5 separate regions of the Homo sapiens genome follow, and regions 2, 3, 4 and 5 are each linked to region 1. Evidence: fine-mapped expression QTL. A gene starts in region 1. Each other region holds a variant in brackets. All regions are shown on one strand. Distances are from middle to middle. Region 1 holds the start of MICU2 (mitochondrial calcium uptake 2). Region 2 has its middle 26 kb from the start of ZDHHC20. Region 3 overlaps MICU2 (mitochondrial calcium uptake 2). Region 4 overlaps MICU2 (mitochondrial calcium uptake 2). Region 5 overlaps MICU2 (mitochondrial calcium uptake 2).

Evidence for each region. PIP is the estimated chance that this variant, and not a neighbour inherited with it, causes the effect.
Region 2: its variant is the best candidate, but not a certain one, in a credible set for the expression of MICU2 in whole blood (INTERVAL, PIP 0.76).
Region 3: its variant is the best candidate, but not a certain one, in a credible set for the expression of MICU2 in whole blood (GTEx, PIP 0.53).
Region 4: its variant is the best candidate, but not a certain one, in a credible set for the expression of MICU2 in thyroid (GTEx, PIP 0.79).
Region 5: its variant is the best candidate, but not a certain one, in a credible set for the expression of MICU2 in whole blood (INTERVAL, PIP 0.55).

Annotation. Positions count from the first base shown.
Region 1 is chr13:21,601,070-21,606,069 of GRCh38, reverse strand. MICU2 (mitochondrial calcium uptake 2) reads left to right here and starts at 1,900. Exons shown (of 12, transcript NM_152726.3): 1 at 1,900-2,131. The coding sequence starts at 1,922. RefSeq lists enhancers at 1,717-1,786, 1,568-2,186, 2,187-2,806 and a silencer at 1,957-2,166.
Region 2 is chr13:21,481,598-21,488,229 of GRCh38, reverse strand. It overlaps the pseudogene H2BP6. Among named protein-coding and RNA genes, the nearest start is that of ZDHHC20, 26 kb to the right of the region's middle. The variant G/A (reference allele first, on the strand shown) is at 3,044.
Region 3 is chr13:21,489,948-21,494,947 of GRCh38, reverse strand. It overlaps MICU2 (mitochondrial calcium uptake 2), which reads left to right. Exons shown (of 12, transcript NM_152726.3): 12 at 1,595-2,257. The coding sequence ends at 1,699. Among named protein-coding and RNA genes, the nearest start is that of ZDHHC20, 33 kb to the right of the region's middle. The variant C/T (reference allele first, on the strand shown) is at 2,153.
Region 4 is chr13:21,580,425-21,585,424 of GRCh38, reverse strand. All of the region lies in intron 1 of MICU2 (mitochondrial calcium uptake 2), which reads left to right. Among named protein-coding and RNA genes, the nearest start is that of MICU2, 21 kb to the left of the region's middle. The variant A/G (reference allele first, on the strand shown) is at 2,671.
Region 5 is chr13:21,537,944-21,542,943 of GRCh38, reverse strand. MICU2 (mitochondrial calcium uptake 2) reads left to right here. Exons shown (of 12, transcript NM_152726.3): 3 at 3,256-3,287; 4 at 3,567-3,642. Among named protein-coding and RNA genes, the nearest start is that of MICU2, 64 kb to the left of the region's middle. The variant G/AG (reference allele first, on the strand shown) is at 2,640.

The DNA.
Region 1 (5,000 bases):
TCTATTACGTGCTGGGCATTGTGCTAGGTGCTAGAGAAACAGGGAAAAGGAAGACATCTCACCCACAAGGATGTCAAATTGTGGGAGAAAGACAATGTTCTTAAATATGCTACATGTTTTAATGGGAATCTAAACTTATCTTGGGCTTAAGGCAATACTGAGTAATAGATGCCAGGTTTCATTAAATACCTAGAGGAACTGTGTGAGGCAGTTAGAAGTATACACGTAAAGACTGTGGTTTCTGGAAATCAAGAATAAACTACAAGGTAAGACATCCAGGGTGTCCAAAATATCCTGGAAGTCCTATTATCACCAGGAAACAAGCTAGATGTCAATAGTCCAGAAAAGCAGGACATGTGCCAAAGCTACCAGAGTTAGCAGAGGTGAAAAACAGTCCAGAGGTTGACAAAGTCAGGCTAGATACAAAAAAGCAGGAAAATCTCAGGTTAAGATGGGCTAGTGATCTGGAATCATGGACATTCAGTCAAGCTCATTTGTGTTCACAGGGCAGAAGTAAACCAAACCTTGACCACAGTAAACGCACATCTGTCATGAGCCTACCATGTGCCAGGCATTTGGCTAGTCACTTTATATAAAATATCTCATTTAGCTTCCCCACCCCAAACTGTAAGAGGGTTGTTCACAGATGAAAAAATTGAGACTCAAAGAGATTAAATACCTTACCCCAAATAGCAGTGATCATCTACCAAATCGTGAGTTATTTACAAATGAGAAAATGGAGACTCAGAGAGATTAAATAATTTGCCCCAAACCACAGTGATCATCCTGGTAGAGCTAAGATTCAAACCTTGAGGTCTGGCTCACAAGTCGGTGAAGTGAGGCTCATCTCTCTACTTCCTACCTGGGAAGGCACACTGAAAAGTAAGTCCAGAAGCTGACGGAAAAGTGAGGAACCTCTGACTGCAGATTAATTTAGACAAGCGGGCTAAGAGAAAGGGAGCAAGGATTAAGGGCAGATAATAACAAAGGGATCCACGGAACTTCCACTGAATGATCAAATTAGATTTCGTGTGACAGGTTTTTGTTTTTGTTTCTTGAAGTTTTGTTTTGTGCAAAACTTCAAGACAGCAGTGATTATGTGATTAGGAGTCTTGGCCCCTTTGATGTTGGCTCCGTTACTGCATGCCCAACTAAAGCTTCTAATAGCTGGGGACATTTCAGAGGCTGAACAAAGAGTTTATTAAAAAGAGTTACTCAGGAAAAGTGAAGACCAAAGAATGGAGGATTGGAGGCTGTTAAATAAAACCAAGTAGTCTGCCTCAGCTACATCACTTATCACCAATGCAACAGCCAGGACTGGAGGTATCGTTCTAAATCTGCACTGGGGAAAACCTCTGGGTCCCTGATGATAGAGACATGGGGCTGGTGTGCTGCTGTCTCTGACTTTTAGTTCTAGGTAGGATAAGAGCTACTATCAAACCTTTTGTTGAAACTGAATTTAAATTCATTATAAGCAAATAGTGAGGGACTGAAATAAACAGAATGCCTTGTCTGAGAGTTGTTTTAGCAGAAATGAAAGAACAGTCAAGACTATAAGCATAGGAAGACATGAACAACACAGATGCAGAAGAGACTATTTCAAAAAACGTTTCACAGTTTTACAAGGTGAAAAAATGAAAAGGAGAAACCTGCCCACACAACCGAGGGCACTATCTTGTTTTGGACTAGGAAGTCATATTATACTGTCTTGATACTCTTCCTGTCATCCCATCCCCACAGCCTTAGAAGGCAGCCCCGGAACCGAAGGCCACCTCTTGCGGCTGCGAGCGTCGCCTCAGCAACCGCACCCACGGCGCAGGCCCGGTAGGCGGGGCGGAAGCCTGTCGGATGTCGCGAGAGTTCCCAAGCGGTAGGCGGCGGCGCCGGGAGAGAAGCGCCGCCTAGCTGCGCTTCCGCAAAGATGGCGGCGGCTGCGGGTAGCTGCGCGCGGGTGGCGGCCTGGGGCGGAAAACTGCGACGGGGGCTCGCTGTCAGCCGACAGGCTGTGCGGAGTCCCGGCCCCTTGGCAGCGGCAGTGGCCGGCGCGGCCCTGGCAGGAGCAGGAGCGGCCTGGCACCACAGCCGCGTCAGTGTTGCGGCGCGGGATGGCAGTTTTACAGTCTCCGCACAGGTACAGGACTAACTCCTTCTGCTAGCCCCAGTCAAGCTCCTCCCTCCCCTGACGCCCTTAGGCGGGGAGTGGTTTGGCTCTGGGCGGCTCTCCCGGAGCCGTGGGTGGAGGTGCCGCTGCGGATCGGAGCGCCCTGCGACTGGTGGGACTCGCTCCTTCCTGGACCGGCCCCCGGCCTGAGTCCCCGAGGGCCTTCGAGGCTGGTGACCGGAGATTCTGCCTCCCTTGGGAGAACCCCGCGGACGCTGAACACCACGGCCCACAAAACTGGCCGCACTAATTTAGTGGTGATGAGTGTGGGCGTGTCTTAATTCGAGGCTCCTAATTCAGAATCTCACTGCGCCTCGCCTCTTGCTACCTCTCTGGTCAGTGAAGTGGCATTCACATCCGCAGGTGGTTTGCGTCCAGTTACCCCTGTGGGATATACCTTTGTTAAGCTTTGCAACTAAGTTTTACGATCTTTTCTTTGTATAGCATGATGAAGTTCTGTCGATTGCTTTTTTAAGTCACGAATGTGTCAGCCACAAAAATTAACCAGTTGATTTCCAGATTTTATTATCAACTTTAAGGAACATTATTGCATGATTATAAACCTTAATATCTTAGTGGACCATAAGTTCTAAGCAAAAATTGCTCCTAAAACCTCCATCTATTAAAGACAAGAGTCCGCCGGGCGCGGTGGCACACGCCTTTAATCCCAGGGCTTTGGGAGGCCGAGGCGGGTGGATCTCCTGAGGTCAGGAGTTCGAGACCAGCCTGGCCAACATGGTGAAGCCGCTCCCCACCCCAGCCCCGCCCCCCCGGTCTCTACTAAAAAATATAAACAATTAGCTGGGTGTGGTGGCGGGAGGCTGAAGTAGGAGAACCGCTTGAATCCGGGAGGCGGAGGTTGCAGTGAGCCAAGATCGAGCCATTGCACTCCAGCCTGAGCTACAAGAGCGAAACTCCGTCTCAAAAAAAAAAAAAAAAGATTCAAGTTCCCTATTTCAGGATAAATGATGTTGTAACGCATTTGAAAATTTGAATGAGTAGTGCTTTAAAATTTTTGTAGACTTAGTAAGTTTTTACATATGAGCTTTTTTGAAAATTGAAAGTAGTAGTTTATTATTTTCTTTTTTAGATTTACATTATGCCTTTCTAGCGAAAAACTCAAGGAACATTCAGATACAACAAAAAAGAGAGGAAAGAAGGCCTTGTGAGTTAAAATTAAGTATTGGCAACTGATATTCCTTATTTGTATTAACATACATTATAATTATATTGTAAACATATATAATGGAAAGATCTATTATCTAGTGTTTTTATAGCATTTTTGTGAATCTTGTGCCAAGGAGTTCAGTGTATTCATCATTAGTTTCTCTCCCCTAGATTCATCCTGGTTTTTTTGTTTGTTTTTTGTTTTTGTTTTTGTTTTTTTTGAGAGGAGTCTCGCTCTGTCGCCCAGGCCGGACTGCAGTGGCGCTATCTCGGCTTACTGCAAGCTCCGCCTCCCGGGTTCACGCCATTCTCCTGCCTCAGCCTCCCGAGTAGCTGGGACTACAGGCGCCCGCCATCGCGCCCGGCTAATTTTTTGTGTTTTTAGTAGAGACGGGGTTTCACCGTATTAGCCAGGATGGTCTCGATCTCCTGACCTCGTGATCCGCCCGCCTTGGCCTCCCTAAGTGCTGGAATTACAGGCGTGAGCCACTGCGCCCGGCCGATTCATCCTGTTTTTAAGACCCTTAGGTTAATCTTCTCCGGAGTATCACTTTAACCACACAGTGTACCCTTCTTCAGAAACCCTTCTTCAGTGTCTCATTTTGCCAAGAGTAAAATGCACTTTTTTTTTGTTGTTGAGATGGAGTCTCTGTCACCCAGGCTGGAGTGCAGTGGCGTGATCCCGGCTCACTACAACCTCTTAACTCCCCGGTTCAAGTAATTCTCCTACCTCAGCCTCCCAAGTAGCTAGGATTACAGGCATACGCCACCACGTCCAGCTAATTTTTTTTTGTATTGTTAGTAGAGCCGGGGTTTCACCATGTTGGCCAGGATGGTCTCGATCTCCTGACCTCGTGATCCGCCTGCCTTGGCCTCCCAGAGTGCTGGGATTACTGGCGTGAGCCACAGCGCCCGGCCAAAATGCACATTTTAAAACTTTGTCTTTCAGAGCCTTTTATAGTCACACTCTGACCTGACACTACTCAGGCACCTTCCCACTAAAGTGATTCACTCACTATCCCTAGAACAAGACTTAAATACCGCTCACCCGCCAGCTGCAATTTGTAGACTCTTGATTTCACTTATCCATCTAATTGTTTTTTTTTTTTCTGGCCCACTTCTAATCTTTCTCCTTTGAAATCCCTGACTTGATTCTAAAAGCTTCACACTAGTGTAGTTATTTTGGATTCTCTTCCCAACTCTCAGCTCTCCTTCCCTGCAGCTTTGTAAGTTTAATCTTAGCTAAAGTAATACAGAAACCATTTTATTATCAATCGTTTTATAAGGTCTGTTGGCATAGCATTTGCCTGATCTGCTATTGGACCGAGACAGTGGTTCTCATCCTTTTGCCACCACGGTGGACATTCCTTTCAGCATCAGTGGCTGAATACAGGAAGGATTGAGAGGACCTATAGGTTGAAAACTTTGCCTTCGCCTCAGTGATTTTGATACATTTCCCTAAGAAGTGGGCCTACTACCACTACTTTAGGGACAGGTGTGCATAGTTGAGCTAGATATATACCAGAATTTTGGCTTGTGATGAATCTTTCATTGCAATAGAATTTTATGCATTAATATAGTTACATTGGTATTCCAAGTTGGTAAACTCTTCCTGACGCGGCCCTATAATAATAGTGAATATGTCCGGCCGGGCCTGGTGGCTCACGCCTGT
Region 2 (6,632 bases), 120 kb after region 1:
GCAGAGCAGGAGGCTCCAGGAATCTGTCCCTTCACCTAAACAACTATTGAACTGGCAGGAATTGTCTTATTTTGGAACATTTCTGACATTTGAGGGAGAGTTTGATGAAGTTGCTAGTAAATTTTGGTGAACTTCAGCCTTTTGTGATGTAGCAGCAACAGCAAAAAGCCTGCCACCCAGCATCAGGAAACTGTCAGGGAAGCAGCCCACATTCCTGGGGCAGCTTCCTGGAACCAGTGTGAGCACAAAAGACCTTATCCTCCAGGAGTGGGGGTCATGTGTTCTGCTAGCTGCTTGCTGATTTTGATAAAGTGATGAGGGGCCAGGCTGGAGGCCAACCATTTTTTAATGCCCACTTCACAAGCTGAAGCAGCTTCCCAGCCACAAGAGATTTAAAGAGACAGGATATCTTCCCTCCTTCTTGAAAGTCAGACATTTAAGGACATTTTTGTCAGGTTACTGGCTAACTGTAGAGATAACAGAAAAGAAACCTCAGTAGCCACACACAACAAGGAAGATACATTGTTTGGAAAAGGCACAAATAGGAATGGGTCCAGCCCACAACAAGCAAAAACAAGCAATCCCTAAGGAGTAGAATTAGATTCCAGAGTTACTACAACATAATGCTCAGAATAACCAGTTCTCAACAAAAAATTATAAAACATGTAAAGCAACAGGAAAGTATGATCCATTCACAGGATATAAAGAATTTCACAGAAACCATACCTAAAGAAGACCAGACTTTGGAATTATTAGTCAAAGATGTTAAATCAATTGTTTTAAATATGTTCAATATGTTTTCTAAAGGAAACCATGAATAAACACTAATAGAAATCAAGAAAACAATGTCTGAACAAAATGAAAGTATAAATAGAAATTATAAAAAGGAGCCAAACAAAATCTGCAATAACTAAAATGAAAAATGCAATAGAGGGATTCAACAGCAAGTTTGAACAAGGAAAAGAGAGGACTGGCAAAATTGAAGATAAGACATTGAAAATTACCCAGTCTAGGGAAAAGAAAGAAAGAGTGAAGAAAAATGAAGACAGCCTGAGGAACCTATGGGACCTCATCAAGCATACCAAATACACATTATAGGAATCCCAGAAGGAGAAGACATAGAGAAAGGAGCAGCAAAAAATTTGAAGAAATAATAGCTGACAACTTCCCAAATCTGATTAAAAACATGAATATATACATCTAAGAAGCTCAATGAACTCCAAGCAGGAAAACTTTGAAGAGATACACACTGAGACATATAGTCAAATTATCAACTCCCATAGACAAAAAGATAATTTTGAAAGCATCAGGTAGAAGTGACTCATGCGGCCAGGTGCGGTGGCTCATGCCTGTAATCCCAGCACTTTGGGAGGCTGAGGTGGGCGGATCATGAGGTCAGGAGATTGAGACCATCCTGGCTAACACGGTGAAACCCCATCTCTACTGAAAATACAAAAAATTAGCTGGGCGTGGTGGCGGTCACCTGTAGTCCCAGCTACTCAGGAGGCTGAGGCAGGAGAATGGCCAGAACCTGGAGGCAGAGCTTGCAGTGAGCCAAGATCACACCACTGCAGTCCAGCCTGGGCGACAGAGCAAGACTCCGTGGAAAAAAAAAAAAAAAAAAAAAAGTGACTCATGCATGTACAAGAGACCTTCATTAAGAATGACAGTTTATCTTCCACTAGAAACCATGGAGGCCAAAAGGCACTGGATGACATATTTAAAGTCTTGAAAGAAAAAGACTGTCAACCGAGAACTCTATATACAGCAAAACTATCATTCAAGAATGAAGGAGAAATTAAGATATATCCAGATTTAAAAGACTGAGTCTTATTACCAGTACTGCCCTACAAGAAATGCTAAACGGAGTGCTTCAGACTGAAATGAAAAGACAATAGACAGTAATTCAAAGACAGAAGAAAAAAAAATACTACTAAAGGTAACTTCATAAGTATATATAAAAGCCACTGGGCCACAAATATGTGGAAATTAACAACCCACTCAAACAACCAATGCCTCAAAGAAAAGGGAAATGAGAACATACGTTGAGACAAATAAAAATGAAAACACAACAGCAAAACTATGAGATGCAGTGAAAGCAGTGCTAAAGAGGGAAATTTTTTTTTTTGGGGGGGATGAAGTCTTGCTCTTGTCCCCCAGGCTGGAGTGTAATGGCACGATATCGGCTCACTGCAACCTCTGCCTCCCGGGTTCAAGCAATTCTCCTGCCTCAGCCTCCTAAGTAGCTGGGATTACAGGCGCCTGCCACCATCCTGGCTAATTTTTGTATTATTAGTAGAGATAGGGTTTCACCATGTTGGCCAGGCTGGTCTCAAACTCCTGACCTCAGGTGATCCGCCCACCTTGGCCTCAAGTGCTGGGATTACAGGCATGAGCCATCGCGTCCAGCCTTAAGACAGAAATTAATAGCTATAAATGTTTACATTTAAAAAGAACAATAATCTCAAATCAACAACTTTACACCTTAAGGAACCAGAAAAAGAACAAATGAAATTCAAAGATGGAAGGAAATAAAGAAAACCTAAACTGTGATTTAATGTATTGACAGAGGCTCCTTACGGACAAGTTTGAGAGTTAAAAACTCCAGGCTGGGTGTGGTGGCTCACGCCTGTAATCCCAGAACTTTGGGAGGCCAAGGTGGATGGATCACCTGAGGTGGGGAGTTCGAGACCAGCCTGACCAACATGGAGAAACCCCGTCTCTACTAAAAGTACAAAATTAGCCGAGCATGGTGGCACATGCCTATAATTCCAGCTACATGGGAGGCTGAGGCAGGAGAATAGCTTGAACCTGGGAGGTGGAGGTTGCAGTTAGTTGGTTGAGATCATGCCATTGCACTCCAGCCTGCGCAACCAGAGCAACACTCTGTCTCAAAAAAAAAAAAAAAAAAAAAAAAAAACCTCCAGAGGGCCCTGACATGGTGGCTCATGCCTGTAATCCCAGCACTTTGGGAGGCCAAAGCGGGAGGATCACTTGAGGTCAAGAGTTCAAGACCAGCCTGACCAACATGGGGAAACACCCC[G/A]TCTCTACTAAAAATACAAAAATTAGCCAGGCGTGATGGGTTATGCCTGTAATCCCAGCTACTCAGGAGGCTGAGGCAGGAAAATCACTTGAACCCGGGAGGTGGAGGTTGCAGTGAGCTGAGATTGCACTACTGCACTCCAGCCTGGGTGACAGAGTGAGTCTCTGTCAAAAAAAAAAGAAAGAAAAGAAAGAAAAGAAAAGAAAGAGAAAGACAAAGAAAGAGAAAGAAAGAAGACAAAGAGAAAGAGACAGACAGAAAGAGAAAGAAAGAAGACAAAGAAAGAGAAAGAGAGAGACAGAGAGACAGAAAGAGAAAGAAAGAAAAGAGAAAATGCTCTTGTATAAAGTACCTGCATACCCTTGAAGTAGTATAGTGTTATTTCAAAGAGGACATGGACCCCCATCTCTACAAAAAATTAAAAATAAAATAAATTAGCCGGGCATAGCGATGCATACCTACAGCCCTAGTTACTCAAGAGGCTGAGGCAGGAGGATCGCTGGAGCCCAGGAGTTTGAGGCTGCAGTGAGCTGTGATTGCACTACTGCACTCTAGCCTGGGTGGCAGAGACCCTGTCCCCCCCCATCCCACCCCACCTCCCCCAAAAAAAAGAAGGAAAGAAAGAAGACATGGGTTAGTTATAAACATATACTGCAAACTCAAGGACAACCACCAAAAAAGTAAATAACTTCTTTAAGTTATGTTCAAAGGCTCCCATAACAATAAAATACAAACCTTCACCAAGGTCTCAAGGTTCTTCCTGCCCCTGCCCCTGACACTCCCAACCTCACCTTCTCTCCTTCCCACTCTTGCTCAACCACTATGGCCATCTTGTTTTCCCTGGAACCCCTCAAGCTCTCTCCTGCCTCAAAGTCATTGCCTTGCTGTTCACCTGGCCTATAATCTTCCAACTCTGGGTCTTTCATAGGACTCACCCCTCTGCATCAGTCAGGTCTCTACTCAGTTATCCTTGTGAAAAAGACCATCAGGGACATACTTCTGGTGTTTGAAGATGCCTGAGCCAGCCAAGTCTGCTCCCTCCCTGAAGAAGGGCTCCAAGAAGGCGGTGACCAAGGCGCAGAAGGTTGGCAAGAAGCGCAAGCGCAGCCGCAAGGAGAGCTACTCTGCTGAAGCAGGTCCACCCCGACACCCGCATCTCTTCCAAGGCCATTCGTTAATGACATCGTTGAGGGCATCGCGGGCGAGTCTTCCGGCCTGGCGCATTACAACAAGCGCTCGATCATCACCTCCAGGGAGATCCAGACGGCTGTGCGCCTGCTGCTGCCCGGGGAGCTGGCCAAGCACGCCGTGTCGGAGGGCACCAAGGCCGTCACCCAGTACACCAGCTCCAAGTAAACTTGCCAAGAGGAGACAACAGCCTTTAGACATATCTTTTCCAACAGTCGTCACTGCTGGACAGTGCTTCATCTTACAAATAAACCAATGAAAAATGAGTGATCCTAGAAGAAGATAAACGGAGGTATTTTAAACAATCAAGGAAGGACCAATATACACCTGGCTAAGAAAAACTAGCCCCTCTTTTTTCTGGGTATAAAACAATTAAAATGTTCTTCATAGAAATTTATGAAATGAGAAACATAAAGACAAAATTAAAATAACTCCTAGTATCTCCTATTCTTTTTATATGTATATCATATATATTCACATTCATATATACATATATCTCACATCATGTATCCCATATATATAAAATAAACTTAGGTGTCATGCTATATATATATTTAGATAACTAAATATGCTTAGAAATAATTTTTAATGGATGCATAATTTATGGATATATTGATAAGTAATTAGTTCTTCATTATGGACTATTTCAATTGATTCCCATTTCTATGCATTATAGATCATACAGCTCACACATCTTTGTACATAAATCTTTGTTCAAATATTATTTCCTAAGGATATTCATGAAGTGGAAATACTAAATCAAAAGTGAAAAACATTATCTAAGATCCTTAAATATGCATTGCCAAAAATTGCTATTCAGGAGCATGCCAATTTATAATCCCAACATAATGTGGAAATTTCTGTTTTATAACACTCATATTTACAATAAATTTTTAAAAGCATTGTTAACGTAATAGGCCCCCAAAAAGAAAAAATTTGAAATTACATTTCCTTATTTAAATTAATGACTCTATTAGTGAGGGTCATTTTCCCATGTTTTTTATTAGCCATGACCCTATAAGAAATAAACTGTGCTGCAAAATGATAAACATGATTTCAATCATTCCATGGGAAGGCACTATATAAAGAATAATACCTTAGGTTAAGTCCAAATAAATAATATTTATTAGGTGCCTCTTCTGCAGAGGATTCTGAAGGGATAATAAACTGCATTTAGCTGCAGGTAACTGAAACTACTTTTACCTACATTGTCTCTTATAAACATTGTAACTACTCTTCGAGAAAGTGTTTACTATGGACTGAATTGTCTCCCCATCCCCCCAAATTCGTATATTGAAGCCCTAAACCCCAATATGACTGTATTTCTAGACAGGACTTGTAAGAGGTAATTAAGGTTAAATGAGGTCATTAGAATGAGTTTCTAATTGGATAGGATTTTTGGCCTTATAAGTAGAGGAAGATTCTGCACTTGGTCCTCCAAATTAAATAATTCATTTAAAAAAAGTGGAAGAGAGAGATCTCTGCACACACACACTGAGGAAAGGCTGTGTGAGCTCACAGTGAGAAGGCAGCACTTACACACAAGAAAACTAAACCTAGGAGAGAGAAAGTTAAACTTATCCAAGGTCGCAAAAGCCAGAAACGAGTGAGGTGAGAAGTTGACCTTGTTCTCCTCAATCCAAGGCCAGGACTCCTCCACTCCACATGTAGATAGCCACCTCACAGTCAACAACCAAATGTCCCCAGAGTCAGCATTAGACCAAGATGTCTCACCAGGAGACAAATGTCTCATCTTGAATAAATATGTTCTAACATATTTATTGTTTACCCATGGAAAATACTGAACCTCAGGAGAAATAAAATGCAAAGTATGTACAAAATTATGTTTACTACCTGACACTGATATAAAGCCTAATGATATCCTTATAGTCTTGGAGGGGTTTGTATATGTGGTGAAACAGGTGCTCACACAGTGCTAATAGACTGTAAATTGGTCTTAGAGAGAAAAATAAATAAACTGGAAGGAGAAAAAAAAAAAAGACCATAACAAACCAATCCCCATTGTACCCCACCCTCTTTCTCTATGTTGTTTTTCTTACTAGAACTTGATCATCAACTTAAAATGTGTATATATACATATATTTGTATATCTGTTTATATCTGCTTATCCTATTAGAATGTAAGTTCCATAAAAGCAGGGATTTTTTTCCTTTTTAGAGACAGGGTCTCACTATGTTGTCCAGGCTAGTCCAGACCTCCTGGGCTCAAGCAATCCTCCTGGCTTAGCTTCCCGAGTAGCTGGGACTACAGCAGGAATTTTTCTTTATTCACCATTGTGTTCTTGAAACTTGAAACAACACCTGTCATAGAGTAGATGTCCAATAAATATTTTTGAATCCCTGAACAAATAAATAAATCACAAAGAGCATTGAGTCAGTCA
Region 3 (5,000 bases), 110 kb after region 1:
AAAGTGACTGTGAGCTACGATCGCACCACTGCACTCTAGACTGTGCAACAGAGCAAGCCCTTGTCTCCAAAAAAAAATAATTTTTTAAAAAAGAAATTACTATTCAGAAATGTAGCCTAGCTGGACATGGTGGCTCACATCTGTAATCCCAGCACATTGTGGGAGGCCGAGCCGGGTGGATCACTTGAGGCCAGGAGTTTGAGACCAGCGTGGATAACATCATGAGACTCTGTTTCTACAAAAAAAGGGAAAAAAAATCATAGCCTAGGATTTGACTAACTACATGTAATTAGATATATGTAAATTCAAATCCCACCTCTACTGTTTATTAACTGCTTAATCTTGCAAAGCCACTTAATTTTTTTTAGTCTCAGATTCTTGACCCATACCATGAGGAAACTAATCTACCAGAAAGCATTATTGTTAGAATTTGATGTAAAATACTTAGTATAGTGGCTGAGATTATGAAGTAAATTTCACTATTAGCATTATTCACTCAAAGTCACATATGAGTCTATACTTGTGGGACAAATCAAATTCAGATTTTTGTTCAGATTAGAATGTGCTAGAAGCACTCTCAGAAAAGAAGTCTGCCAGGGGAAGACTAGGGTCCAAAGAGAATCTACATGGTTGGTAGGTAGGCAAGAAAAAAGGAAGGAGAGAGAGAGAGAATATGGTACTATTCATGAAAATAAAGCTATTTACAACTTAGAAAAGCAATTCCATTTCCTGCAACAAACATAACTTAGGGAAAAATAAATATTATTTTCATTAGCAAACATATTAATATTTTATAAACTTTGCAGTTATCCAACACCCATAAATATATTCCGGGAAATTAAGCCAGTCTTTTCAGTTCACAATTGAGTGTACCTGGGAGTCTCCTTGCCCTTTCTCAGAAGACATTAAAAAGAAAAGCTGTAAATCAGTCATAAGAAAAAGAACATATATAATCTGGAGTAGAATTTTGCTTCCACTTGGCTAATTTTCATCAGTGCTATGCTCCTGTGGTCCCCCGGATCCAAATATTTCCTAACCTTTACCTTTTCATTTTGTTGAGAGTAGTAGTAATCCACATGTATTTTTAGCTAACAAAACACGTCCATGAATTAGATTATTTCTTGAAGCTTTTCATCAAATACTTTGTGGCCTTTTTTTTTTTTAATTTTAGCCAATGTTAAATCAAAGCTTTAGGCTTATAATTGTATTCTACATAGCTAAACAAAGTTCACCAGAAAAAAAGGGAAAGATTATAAAACATTATAAAAGGAAAACATTATAAAGTAATTAAATTTTAAAGCCAGTATGTGAAAGAAGAGATGGCCCAAAGTCTTCATTACCCTCTTAGAGAAGAAACTCCATTAATGTGTGCTCAGTCTGGTTCCACTCCCTAGTAACCTTAAGCATAGTTACATTCACTTTTTGTCTTTTACCCCCATTTTCAGTTCTGTTGTGATCATCTTTTACAACATAATTCACCCTCAACTATTTTTGGAGGAGTGTGGGAAGGAAATAAACAGTAACGTAAAGTATATATGAAATCATGTTTAACCTTGAAGACAATGACCCCTTGATTTTTACTTTCGGTTAACAGGTACCACAACATCAGAGTATACAAGAATACTGGAAGTGTGTGAAGAAAGAAAGCATTAAAGGAGTAAAAGAAGTCTGGAAACAAGCTGGAAAAGGTCTTTTTTAATAAAAGATATAATAGTATGGCAATTATATTGTTCCAAATGTCAAAATTTGTGATTTTTTAGAAGTACTTGCTATTTATCTTCTTAAGTCTTCATTGATATTCTGTGTGAAATAAGCATGTCTTGTACTTGCTTTCTGATTCATAATTTTATTAAAGAACTTAGTAGAAAGAAAAGTAAGTATAAAAATAGATATTGGATTCTGTCAGAAGGCCTAGATTTGAAATAATGTTTTGTACTTCGGTAAGATGGAAAACTTAGTGATTCACTGATTTCTTAGACACTCTAATATGATATGCTTTCTGGAAGGATAAAACAAATACATATGGGAAAAAGTACTTGAGACCAAGGCCAGCATCAATTCCAGACATCTTCATGTTCCTAATAGGCTAAATGAAGTTAAAAACTTATTTCAGATTTTTCTCATCTGTACCTTATATCTCATAAATTTATTG[C/T]ATATTTTATGTCAGTAGCTTAGCTGTTTATTGTCTTTAAAATAACATGTAAACTTCAATGTTCTATCTGGAAGCAGAATAAAATATTTACATAGATACAAAAAATACTGAGGTGCTTTTTATTTTACATGTGTTTTTAAAACTACTTTAAAAAAAATTGTAAATACTCTCATCCCTTGCCAGCCTCATTAGTTCTTAAAACCTGGTGTAGCTGGGAGAAATTTTGACCCCAAGGTCAGGGGCTCATGGGATATATTAGGTTGTGGGAAACAAATGTTGCCAGAAGGTAATTGGCATTAAACTGAATATCAAATGGCATTTTTTAAAACCTGGTAAATAAAAATTATAAAAAACTTGTGTCTCAGACACACAATTTAGAAAATTGCAAATATATAAAACCAGTTCCATTCTCTAGAGAACTGGCTGATCCCAAGGCCGTGACAGGGAAAGTCCAAGATAAGCCTAGAATATATTGTGCCTAAAAGTAAAGAAGGGCTCACAAAATGGTGAAGAGTCAGAAGGACAAAGCCAGCTTGAAGGGGCTGCCCCTGTCAAATCTGGTTCAGTTTGAGGGTCAGAATAATTAATGTCCGTAATAGATTATAGCCTATTGAATGAAATAAGAATTCATGAGTTTACACCAAAAATTAATGAGGCCAGAGAAACCTCTCCCTTATTGTTGAAGGATAATGCCTTGAAATATGTTAATCCACTAAATTGAAAAACTCTCCCTCACAGTTTAATGATTGAAATCGACAAGAGGCAAAAGCTTTTGTCCATTTATTACAAAAAATATTTTGCTCCTGATTCAAAAACAAATTTGCTCTAATGAATTGTTTTATAAATAATTGCTTATAAAATAATTTTTTCTCTCTCTTATAAAACCAAAAGATAGGCAATGCAAGAAAGTATAAGTATGAATGAATGAATCCTCCACCATTTTCTCTGTCAACCACAAAAATGCTGACTCCTCACCTGTCTTTCCAGATGCCCTTATGGGTCAAGATTAGGGGCACAAAAATCCAAAAATTAAGATGGTTTCTCATGCCTTCACAGGCTTCACTTTTTCAGCCTCACCTGGCACTGATTTGTCTGCCCCACTTTCCACAGCATTCCATGAATACTGTTTTGTGCTCCAGCGACATAAAGCTCCTGGCCTTTCCTCATGTACACCATGTGCGTTTCACATACCCCTACCCCTAAGCTTGTTACACATGCCATTTCCTTCTGACAGCGATGCCTTTCCCTCGCTATCTTTTTTTTTTTTTTTTTTTTTTTTTGAGACGGAGTCTCACTCTGTTGCCCAGGCTGGAGTGCAGTGGCACGATCTCGGCTCACTGCAAGCTCTGCCTCCTGGGTTCATGCCATTCTCCTGCCTCAGCCTCCTGAGTAGCTGGGACTACAGGCACCCGCCACCACGCCCGACTCATTTTTTTGTATTTTTTAGTAGAGACGGGGTTTCACCATGTTGGCCAGGATGATCTTGATCTCCTGACCTCATGGTCCACCTGCCTCGGCCTCCCAAAGTGCTGGGATTACAGGCGTGAGCCAACGCACCCGGCCCCCTTGCTATCTTCTTGGTGAAATTCTAGACATCAAGGTGCTACCCACATACCAAGTTTGTATCTACCAAAGTATTAAGAGCAGGAGCACTGCCTTAGTCATCTTTATATACCAGTCTAAGCTGAATCCCTGGCTTACAGTAGGCATCCAACAAATATTTGTTGAACAGAAGGAAAGAAGAGAGGGAGGGAGGGAGGAAAGGAGGAGATTTGGGATGGGAGGAGCTAGTAAAGTTCATGAGTTAATCAAGAAGTATGCCAAAAACCTGCTAGGCCCCAAGCATACAGTGGTGAAATAAATGGTTCCTGCTGTCATGGAACTTGCAGAAGGTGAAGACTGAAAACTAACCAGGAAACATTTTAAGTATATATATACAATTAAAAACTAAGATTTAAAAAAAAAAAAGTGATGTTAGAGATCAGAAGACTTTCTTACAACAAGAGTATTTAGAGGGTTGAGGATAGTTTTCCATTTTTCAAGGCTAAAAGGAAATTACTATAACTGAAAAGATTTCTGAAAACGAATAATGTTTGTCATGTCATTACTACAAAAGTACTTGATCCCATTTGAAAAAAATAGGGATAAATATATATCAAATAAGCAAACTAGATTTGCCAATATCTCCTAGGAGTACGGAGACATTTACCTTGAAAGCAGCTGGACTTCCTAAAAATCTAAACTGCATGAATCTTCAGTCATTTGTTTCTTTACTATCATTTTGTTAAATAAATGATCACTAGGTCTGATATTCTGGTAGATAGCTTGTATTTCTCTGCTTATCCCTTCAAGGTGGGAGACAGTTGCAGGGGGTATCTGAGCCCTGCCTTCACGGATCTTCTCCTCCTTGCCCATCCCCTCAGGAATCTCATCACCCCTCTGGCTTCTGTTCTCTCCTCACCTTCAGGCCCAGTTGCTTTCTAGATTTCTCCATTTGGTTTGTCCAACTCAAGCACATCCAAAACTGACCTGATTATGTCCCCCTCTTTTTCCAAACCTCATTTCTTCACATGTCTTCTGCCTTAGTGAACGGGTCTCCTACAAGAAACCAACTAGGAACCAGACAGTCATCCCGGATCCTCACTCCCTTACTCCTCTATAGTCAATCATGTCCTGTGAATTCTGCTTCCTCAAAATCGCCAGACATGTGCTCCACCTTACAACACTGTTGCCACTGCCTTAGTGCAAGCCCTGATCATTCATTACTTAGATGATCTCCGTGGAATCCTAACTTGCCCTTTGTCCGGCCCCTTGTAAGGCACAGCAATTAAGCATCCAAACTCTGCTG
Region 4 (5,000 bases), 21 kb after region 1:
GGTAGGCCAAGAGCAGTAAACTTTATAGCAACATACAGAAGTTTAATAACCATGAAACATTGTAATCCCAGTGAAGACTAAAGCTTTCTTGCAACAGTAAAGGAAGAATGCAAAGAAGTTTTTATACTTTACTGCCTCAGGTAAAAATATCTGTAGAAACAGGTGATGACAAAGCTATGATGTTAATAAACCCAAATGGAAGTCAAAAATCAAAGTTGTAAATGGCTAGATTATGAAAAGAGAGATGACAAAGTTATACCCTGTAATTAGATGTAATTTGTGCTTTTGGCATAGCTGTTTGTCCTGCATGAATGAGAGGTTGTCTTACATTCCTTCATTGTGTAATAGGACAGTAGTTAACGATCCTACTGTAAATCTATACAGTGACTCTTCTGGGGGAAAGAACAACAAATTGTAACAGCAAAGTATATTTAACCTTTTCTTTTGCATTTATATTGTTTAGTGGAATCCAAGTAAATATTACTGTTTGTTCTTGTTCTATAAACCATGTGTTTTAGTAGCTAATATATACAAATTATGCTTCTGTTACTGTGAATTTTGGGGTTTTATGAATTACAACAGTGCATAAACACACCATAAGCCACTAATAGTAGCAGTATATGAATTTAAATGTTTTATTTATAGTTTAAAAAGCAGTAAATATTTGGTAGAGTAAATTAGTAGTAAATATATTGTCTCAATAACTTCATAAATAACATTATTAAATGTTTTCAGAGTATAAGTAATTTCAATATAAAAATAATAATGAATCATATTTTTTAAGTATAGCCTGGACTTAAAATTTTCATAGACATCTATGAAAGTTCCATAGATATGTGGTTCCATAGATAGTTCATAGATATTTCTAAGGAAATAAGGTGTTATAAAATCTGAAATTTATCCACATGGATATCATTAACTTTGTGTGTTGTGTACTAGAAACTTGTATACCTTAAGATCGCAGGCATCTTTGTCCTCAGTCCCTCATCACTTAGCTGTATGTACCCTGGAAATGCAAACCTTTTTTTTTTTTTTTGAGATGGAGTCTCGCTCTGTCACCCAGGCTGGAGTGCAGTGGTGTGATCTCGGCTCACTGCAAGCTCCGCCTCCCAGCTTCACACCATTCTCCTGCCCCAGCCTCCCGAGTAGCTGGGACTACAGGCGCCTGCCACCACGCCCAGCTAATTTTTTGTATTTTTAGTAGAGACGGGGTTTCACCCTGTTAGCCATGATGGTCTCGATCTCCTGACCTCATGATCCACCCGCCCCAGCCTCCCAAAATGCTGGGATTACAGGCGTGAGCCACCGTGCCTGGCCAGTGCAAACCATTTTTAAAATTAGGCAAAATGAACCCTTAAATATGAAAGCACAATGTGTTTCTACAAACTGTTCCAGATATTTCAAAGGAAAATATGAATAATGCAGCACATCTACTGTTTGAAATTATGTCATTTTTCTTATTCACTAGTATATGCAATTAGAAGATTATATACAGTGAGAAGCTGTAAATGGGTTGATTTCTATGTTTCTTAAATGTCAGGAGATTAAATCACACTGTTGTTTTAAGGACAAAAACTTTTTCAGTTTAACTTGGTCATAATTGCCCAGTTAAGAAACCAGCTCAAATCAGCACATTTTCAATATGGCTCTGCCTCCATTCAGGCCCAGTCCTGGGAAGTTCTGGAATGCTTGGAATGCTCCAGGATTGAATTTCAGGTCAGGGAACTGCTCTTTCGGTGATGGTAGTAGTACTGCTTTGACTGTTGCTTTAGCGGGAGCCCCATGCATGGAGCTGTGACTGCCCTACTGCAAAGGAAAAACAGGAAACAGCTGAGCACTTCCCAAAGGCTCATTTAATTATCAGATGATAACTGATCCAGCAGCCTACATATGTTGAAGTATATATGAAAGACTTGTCTGTCCTAGTATTTCCTATTCTCAGACATACCAAGTGTAAGATACTTTAATGGCAAGCCAGAAAATAATGATTATGAGGAAGCATTGGGGTTCAACCAGGAAACCGTTGCAATACAAAGGCAATCAGTAGTGTATTTTACAGAGACACACTTTTATTTTTTAAAAAACTTAATACTGACTGATCACTTTTTATCAGTGATTGAAGCATGTTTATTTATTTAATACTGCAACTTTTTTGTTTTTGTTTTTGTTTTCTACTTATATAGACAAGGTCTCTGTCGCCCAGGCCAGAGCATAGTGGTGCAATCATAGCTCAAGGCAAACTCCTAGACCCAAGCAGGCCTCCCTCCTCAATCTCTCGAGTAGCTAGGACTACAGGCATGAGCTAGCCCAGCCTTTTTGTTTTTAAACTAGTACTTTGTATTTCATTAGTAGACTTGACCATTAGGCAGTGCTTAAATCCATCTTAAATTATAGTTGTAAAAAGATTGCTTCCTGAAACACTGAAGAAATGGTTATAAATGAAGTTTCCACGCTGCAAAAGAAATAGCACTCGAATATAAATTTTTCTTTTTAATTCTCAGCAAGGCAATGTACTTCTACAGAAGAGTGCGCCCTTACAGATGGAACAATGGTGAGCGCACACTTGGACAAGGGAGGGGAAGGGGTTCTTACCCCTGATGCACGTGGCCCCTGCTGCTGTGTCTTTCCCCTATTGGCTAGGGTTAGACCGCACAGGCTAAACTAATTCCA[A/G]TTGGCTAAAGAGAGTGACGGGGTGAGTGGTTTGGTGGGAAAAACACTTATGGCAGAGCAGGAAATTGGAATGAGTCAGTGTGGAGAATGAGCAGGTAATTAGAATGAGTCAGGGTGGAGCAGGTAATCGAAAAAGGTTGTTTTAGAAGGAAGTTAAGTTTAAAAGTAGAAAGCAAATAATTGAACGTACATATTCTTTGAAGAGAAATTTAGAACTCATATCTAACAAAATAATAATTTATGTTTACTGAAATTCTTTGATATATATCAGGAAGGGGGCTAGAGCTGTTGCTTGTTTCTCAATTCTTTTTTAAAAATTACTTATGTTGGCTTTTTTTCTTATTGAAATACATGTATATTATAGAAAAATTAGGGGAAAAGTCAAAAGGAAACTTGTAAAAAACCATCCTCTTCTTATGATGACTTGAGAAGACTAGTTACTGTTAAAAGTTTTGGCTATTGTATCTTCAGTAGATAGAGTTTTTATAGAAATAAAGCTATTTAGTGCTAAAGCTAAGACATGATTATTGTAGTTCCACATTGTGTCATTAGAGGGAAAGTAAGCTGTCCAGGCCCTTTTGGAGACTAGCCCTTGCCCCTGTCTCCTTGCTCTCCAGTCTCTTGTCACCCGTATTTCTCTTTAGTTGTTTCTCTACTAAAAGCTATAAGTATTTATCATAGTTAATGTGATGGCCACTTACTTATATAGAGCAGGGGAAGGCACCCCGCAGTGGCTTTGTTGCCACATCCAGGAAAAGGTATAGTGAAAACAAAAATCAGAATTATGCAGATATGCATGTAAGGTTTTGTTAAAGACCAAGCTTTTATTAAAAAATTTTGTGTAGCAATGATTTCCTGTAGTTCTTTGCTTTATTTGTGCTAGATAGCAGTTGTGTGTATTCTTTATTTTAATTAATCTGCTTTAGCTGGTGACATTTTTAGACGACCTGGAATTAATAGATTTTACATTTCATACTTAGTCATGTTGGGTAAGCTCTTTTCACTTAAATTTTAAAAGAGACCTTTACTACTAGATATCAAAAAGGGACTGAGTCAAATATTCATCTCAGCTGTTTAAACTTCATTAACTATATACATTATTCTAACGTGCACTACTTAAAATTGAGACATTTTATTTTACTAATTATTGTATTTTACCATTTTATCATTCATCTTTGTCATTTTTCCTGATCTTTGAATAGGGTGTGAATCTGATTATGTGGTAAAAGTTACATACTCTTTCCCAAAAAAATGCACAAACATGTTTCACACAGATTTCAGGGAGTTATGAACCCCAGAAGTATGATTATGTCATGTAAGGTTAACAACCTCTGCTGTAGGCAGAGTAGTGGCTCACACCTGTAATCCCAGCACTTTGGGAGGCCAAAGTGGGTGGATCACTTGAGGCCAGGAGTTTGAGACTAGCCTGGTCAACATGGTGAAACCCCATCTCTACTAAAAATACAAAAATTAGCCTGGTGTGGTGGTGCATGCCTGTAATCCCAGCTACTCAAGAGGCTGAGGCACGAGAATTGCTTGAACCCAGGAGGTGGAGGTTGCAGAACCTCTGCTCTAAATTTTCAGGTTACATCCTTGTCTCTTCCTAGTTCTTAGTATTTATCCTTCACATAAAATGTTTCAAAGGCTAGATCTAAACTTATTTTCCACTTCACTGCTTTGATTATGTCACTATATTACTGCTAATTTTTACCTGCTGTTACCTTCAGATCAGGTAATTGTTGATGTTTGCCTCTTGCTCTTCACTAGTTCATCTCTTTTGTTCTGACTCTGTACATTCTCTATTCTAACCCAGTTAGCCCTGTTTTACTAGCTTATCCTGTTTACACCTTTATAAATGGAACAGACACCTTTGTCTGTTGCCACTAACCTTCATTGTTCAAGGGAGCTTCTTCAAGTTTATTCATCCTCCAGCCTGTAAGTGAGTTGGGGTATTCAAGTTTTCACAGCCTAAGGAGTATACCCATAATTTCAGGAATATTATTAATACTGGTAATAATATTTGTTACTTACATGAAGTTTTATAAAGTTATAAGTTAAGAGACTATCTAAACAATAGCCCATAAATATTTAGAAACTAATTTTAGACTAAAAGTGACAAAATTCATTTGAGTTTTCAAATATTTAAGAGTTACTCTTAAATATTTAAGAGTACTTCACAAGCAATTCAAGTTTGGAGATTTAGGTTGCCTGGATCATTGTAGAATATCAGGCTCTGTCTATTCTAGTCTACAAATGTCTGCTCCCCTCTCTTCCCAAGATCTAACTAGGATTATTCTTGATTATAAAGACACAGGAGTAGATTCGCCAAT
Region 5 (5,000 bases), 63 kb after region 1:
TTTTGTAATTATGATTATCAAATAACTTTATTTTGGCCAGGGGCAGATTTATTGGATCTATAAGAACACTTAATGTGTATCAATGCAGCTTTACTATTTTAAGTATTAAAAGGCTCACTTACCTATAACAGGATATGCTGTATCTGGATTTTACTTCATAAATCCTCTGTAAATAGTGAAAACCACATGGTGGAATCTCTAATATGGGTGGAATCCTTTTAAAACATTTTACTTCCTGAACCAAAATTCCTAGTGCTTCAAGATCTATGCCGCCTCCTACAAAAACAAAAACCCCTAATGTGTTTTTCTTGTTTTCATATTCATACAATGAAACATTACAACCTCAATTCTAGATCTTTTTTCCTGTTTTTTGCCCCATTCTGTTATTTTCATACATAAGTGTGTGAATACATATCAAATAGCTGTGAAAATAATGAGACTGAATTTTTTATTTGTGTGAATGTGGAAATAGCCAAAGAAAGAGAGACAGGAGTGTCCCCCTACCCTACATTGAAAAAAACAAACTCAAACAAAAACAGAAGGAAAAATTAGATTATTTGCCAGATGGGTTTTATCCTTAAATAGAAAAATATTGTCCAGAAATACTTAGGTGTATTTAATATGCTCTTGCCTTGTTACTGCTGTAGGGAGAAAAAAGGTCATGGCTCCTGCTGTGCAGGTCAGACCATGGACCTCTTATTTTGCTGCTCAGCCATGAACAAGTAGTATAGAGTAAGCATCCTGGGTGAGACAACTGTCTACCAAGAAAACCCTGCCAGAGTGTTCTGGATTAGAAACACCACAACCTCTCATAATACTCAGGGAGAGGTGCATTAACTGAAGAGAAAGAGGAAGCAGGAGAGAACGGGTGTTCATTCCTAGTATCTTTGCCTTGTCTTTTTTTTTTAATCTAAAAATGAATTTTATGTAAGAGACTAGCTTCTAAACTTTTAATCAAAAAGTTAATTTCTTCATTATTTTCTAATTATTTATTCCATTTGAATTAAAAAAATTTAAAAAGATGTTTTTACAACTTAAACTGCATTAAGTATCTGGTTTTCTCCTTTTTGATGATCAAATTTTTATATACATGTCAAATAGAACTTGTAATCTACATTAAATAATGAAAAGCAGCAAAACTGCCTCTATAATCGTACCATGCATAATTATTCAGTTTTGTTAAGTGTTGAAAGTAGGCCGCAGGCTCTTTTTACTACTGTCATGGAATTCAAAGAGTCTAACACCTGTTTTTGAAAAATCTATATGAGATATGAAAATAAATCCTTCAAGGCCCATATTGTTACCTAATTCCTCTTGCCAATTTGTTTTACATGTAAAGTGGGGATATAATAATTTATCCAAAAGACAGGGACCTGGATAAGAAGACATTGTGAAATCTTTTCTGATTTGTTTATTCAGTTACTCATTCAACAAATATTTAAATGTTTAGCACTGACCTACATAAAAGTAAGACAGGTATGAAATCTGCCTCCATAGATTTTATAATTTACTTTTTACCTGTAATTCTGGTGTTATATTATTCAATCAATTCATGACTTTATTGTGGTATTTCATTCACATAGTATTGAATTTTATTGGCTTACCTGTTTGGCAGCCAGACTTCTAGCTGGAGGGAAGCAAACATTACCTTCTTTACTCACTCAGTTTCAAGTAGAAGGATTTTTTTTTTTAACAGATTTTTGAAAGACCAAAAAGGAATCTAGCCTTCAAACAGATAACACCCCTTAGAAATAATCTGATTTCTAAGAAACTCTTAGACACCATCCATTTTGCTACCTTAAATTCTTGATCCTCTTCTGCCTTCAAAATGTCAATCATTGCTTTCTAGACTACTTTAAGTTGGATGTAAGGATTAATCCGCTTTTTAAAAACAGATAAGACTAATTTTAGTTGTCTAAAAATAAAAGGGTACATGGTAATGACTATTTGTGGCGTAACTTTAGGACAAGCATAGAAATAATGATCAGTTTCTTTTTTAAGTTAATTGACTATGTAAAGATAAGTAAATACATGTATTACACAGTTTTTTGGAGTTCATTATCAGCATTATATGACTACGTATTATATACACATTCACTCACTTAGATTTGTCCAATAAATGGTAATTTTTATCTATTTGATTATCTGATACTATAACAACACCTAACAGTAGAATCTGGGGCTCTTTGTCTTTGGCTGGCACATAATAGTTTCTCCAGTGAGTAAAAATTATCCCAAAATAACAACACCTAAGCTTACAAACATAGTCATAGATGTTTCTAAAAAGTATGTAGTCATATTCACAAGTAATGTTTTGACTAATAATGTAAAAATAAAATCCTGACAGTTTACTAATACCAAATAATAGAATTTGCCCTTGTAGATTTATCGTCCAAATTAAACAACCCAAACTACAGAAAAGCCACATCTAAAAGCACTCTTTTTTAATGTGCCACCTGAATTTCTACAGACTGCGTAATTGTGCTGAAGGAACTTCATAGACAAGATAATTTTGAGAGCAATAAGTAAAGTTAGTGCTGTATATTGCTTATGTAAGAAACAAAATAAAACATTTTTCAGTTTTGTTCTGGATGTTTAAAATGATTTGAGGCTATCATCAGAGTAAGTCCTAAAAAAAA[G/AG]AAACAATGTAATAGCTTTAGAATTATGGTGGATATTAGGAAAATGATGTAGGCAGTAAAGAGGGTGGCTGAAAACCTGAAAGAATTTTAAATCTCTGTTATCCAGTAGGAAATTATTAAAAATAACTACTTTAGAATGGATGGTTATGTTGGCTAGACTTTTACATTTGACTGGAGAGTTATAAGCCTAAGAGGACTTTCCAGAGTTCAAAAAAAGGAAGCTTTATAAATCATGAGTGTTTTTTTCTAAATCAATGAAAGTAAAAAGAGAGTGATTTTAATAATCATGTGAAGAAATTATGTTTGACAAGAATTAATAATATGATTCATACAACTAGGATAAATCATAGATGGTTATATACAATTTCATATGTATGAAATAGGGTGAGTGAAATTGAAAATGGATCTTGTGAAAAACTGTAGTGTCTTTGTGTTTAGTCTTAGAATTCTCTGACTCATGATTATGGCTTAAGGATATTAGCTAAAATTACAAGCCTTTGCTTTTTAAATAAATATTTAGTTGTTTGTTTTGTCTTTTAAATAATTTTCTTTCTTAGTGCAAGTTGAGTTTTACCAAAGAATATGGATACTAAATAATGTTTCTTATTTGTTGTAGGTAAAACTTCAGTCAAGAAGCTGACAAAAAAGGTAAGCATCATGTTGTGGGGGGCAGGGTTTGTTTTTGGTAAGATAGAAAATGAACTTTTGGCCGGGCACGGTGGCTCACACCTGTAATCCCAGCACTTTGGGAGGCCAAGGTGGGCGGATCACGAGGTCAGGAGATCACCATCCTGGCTAACACAGTGAAGCCCTGTGTCTACTAAAAATACAAAAAGAAATTAGCCGGCTATGGAGGTGGGCGTCTGTAGTCCCAGCTACAAAGAAAATGAACTTTTAGAAGTTTAATTTTAATATGTGTATTCAAAGGACATCGAGGATACACTGTCAGGGATCCAAACAGCTGGCTGTGGATCAACTTTTTTCAGAGACCTTGGCGATAAAGGTAATTTTGGTTTGTTGTTAAATTTCTAGTTATGTGTTTTATTTAACTGAAGTATTATTAAGGAATTAAGGTATGAGATTTGTACCATGTTATTTAATAGGTGTTTTTAAAACATGAAGTAAGGAGGTAACTTTTTCAAAGTCTTTGAGCAATTACAGATAAATTATTAAAACATCAATGTTTTAATGGATGAGGGTATGAGGCAGAGTATCTAAAATAAAAGATGAGAAGCCTTCAAGGGCATCCAGAGGAGCCACACCACTTAGGGGAGTGGACGGAAAGAGGTCATGGCAGAGTAATCAGAGAGGTAGAGGAATGCCAGGAGAGTGTTATCACAGAAGCCAAGCAGAGAAAGTGTTAAAGAAAAAGGGAACTTATCAAATGTCAAAACCAAGTAAATGTAGGGAGTTGAGTGAGCTAAGGACTGAGAAGTATCCTCTATATTTAGCAGCTGGAAGTGTTTGACATTTTAACAAGTACAGTGGTGCCTTGTTATCTATGGGGTATTGATTCCAGGACCCCCCTTGGATACCAAAATCCAAGAATGCTCAAGATCCTGATATAAAATGGCATCATATTTGCGTATAACCTACAAACATCCTCCCATTTAGTTCAAATCATCTCTAGATTACTTATAATACCTAATACAATGTAAATGCTATGTATATAGTTGTTATATTCTGTAACTCTATTTATTTGTATTGGTGTGGGTTGTTTGGGGTTTTTTTTTTTTTTTTTTGAGACAGGGTCTTGCTCTGTTGCTGGGTTGGAGTGCAGTGGCGCAGTCATAGCTCCCGGCAGCGTCAAACTCTGGGACTCAAGCAGTCCTCCTGCTGCAGCCTGCTGGGACTACAGGTGTGCACCACCATACATGGCTAATTTTTTTTAATTTTAGTATAGACGGGAGTCTCACTACATTGCTCAGGCTGGACTCAAACTCCTGGGCTCAAGCAGTCCTCCTGACTTGGCCATTGAAAGTAATGGGATTACAGGCATGAGCCACCACACCAGACCTTTTTTTTTTAATATTTTTGATACACGGTTGGTTGAATGCATGGATGCGGAGGGCCAACTGTACAGATCAGTGATAGGATGAGATCTAAAGCCAAGTTGCAGAGCACTGAGACGTGAGGGCGGATATGAGAAAAGTAAACGCAGACCTCTTGAGAGACATGGTCATGAACAGAGGAGTTAGAGGGTAGTAGCTAAGGGTAGAGAAAAAAGGCCAAGAGAATATTGGTTTATTTTAGGTGGTGAGCATGTTTCTTGTTGATGAGAAGGAGAGGTGGACAATACAAAGGAAGTATGAATAGGACAAAATCCTGGAAAATAGGAAAGAAGGGATTGTCTTCAGAACA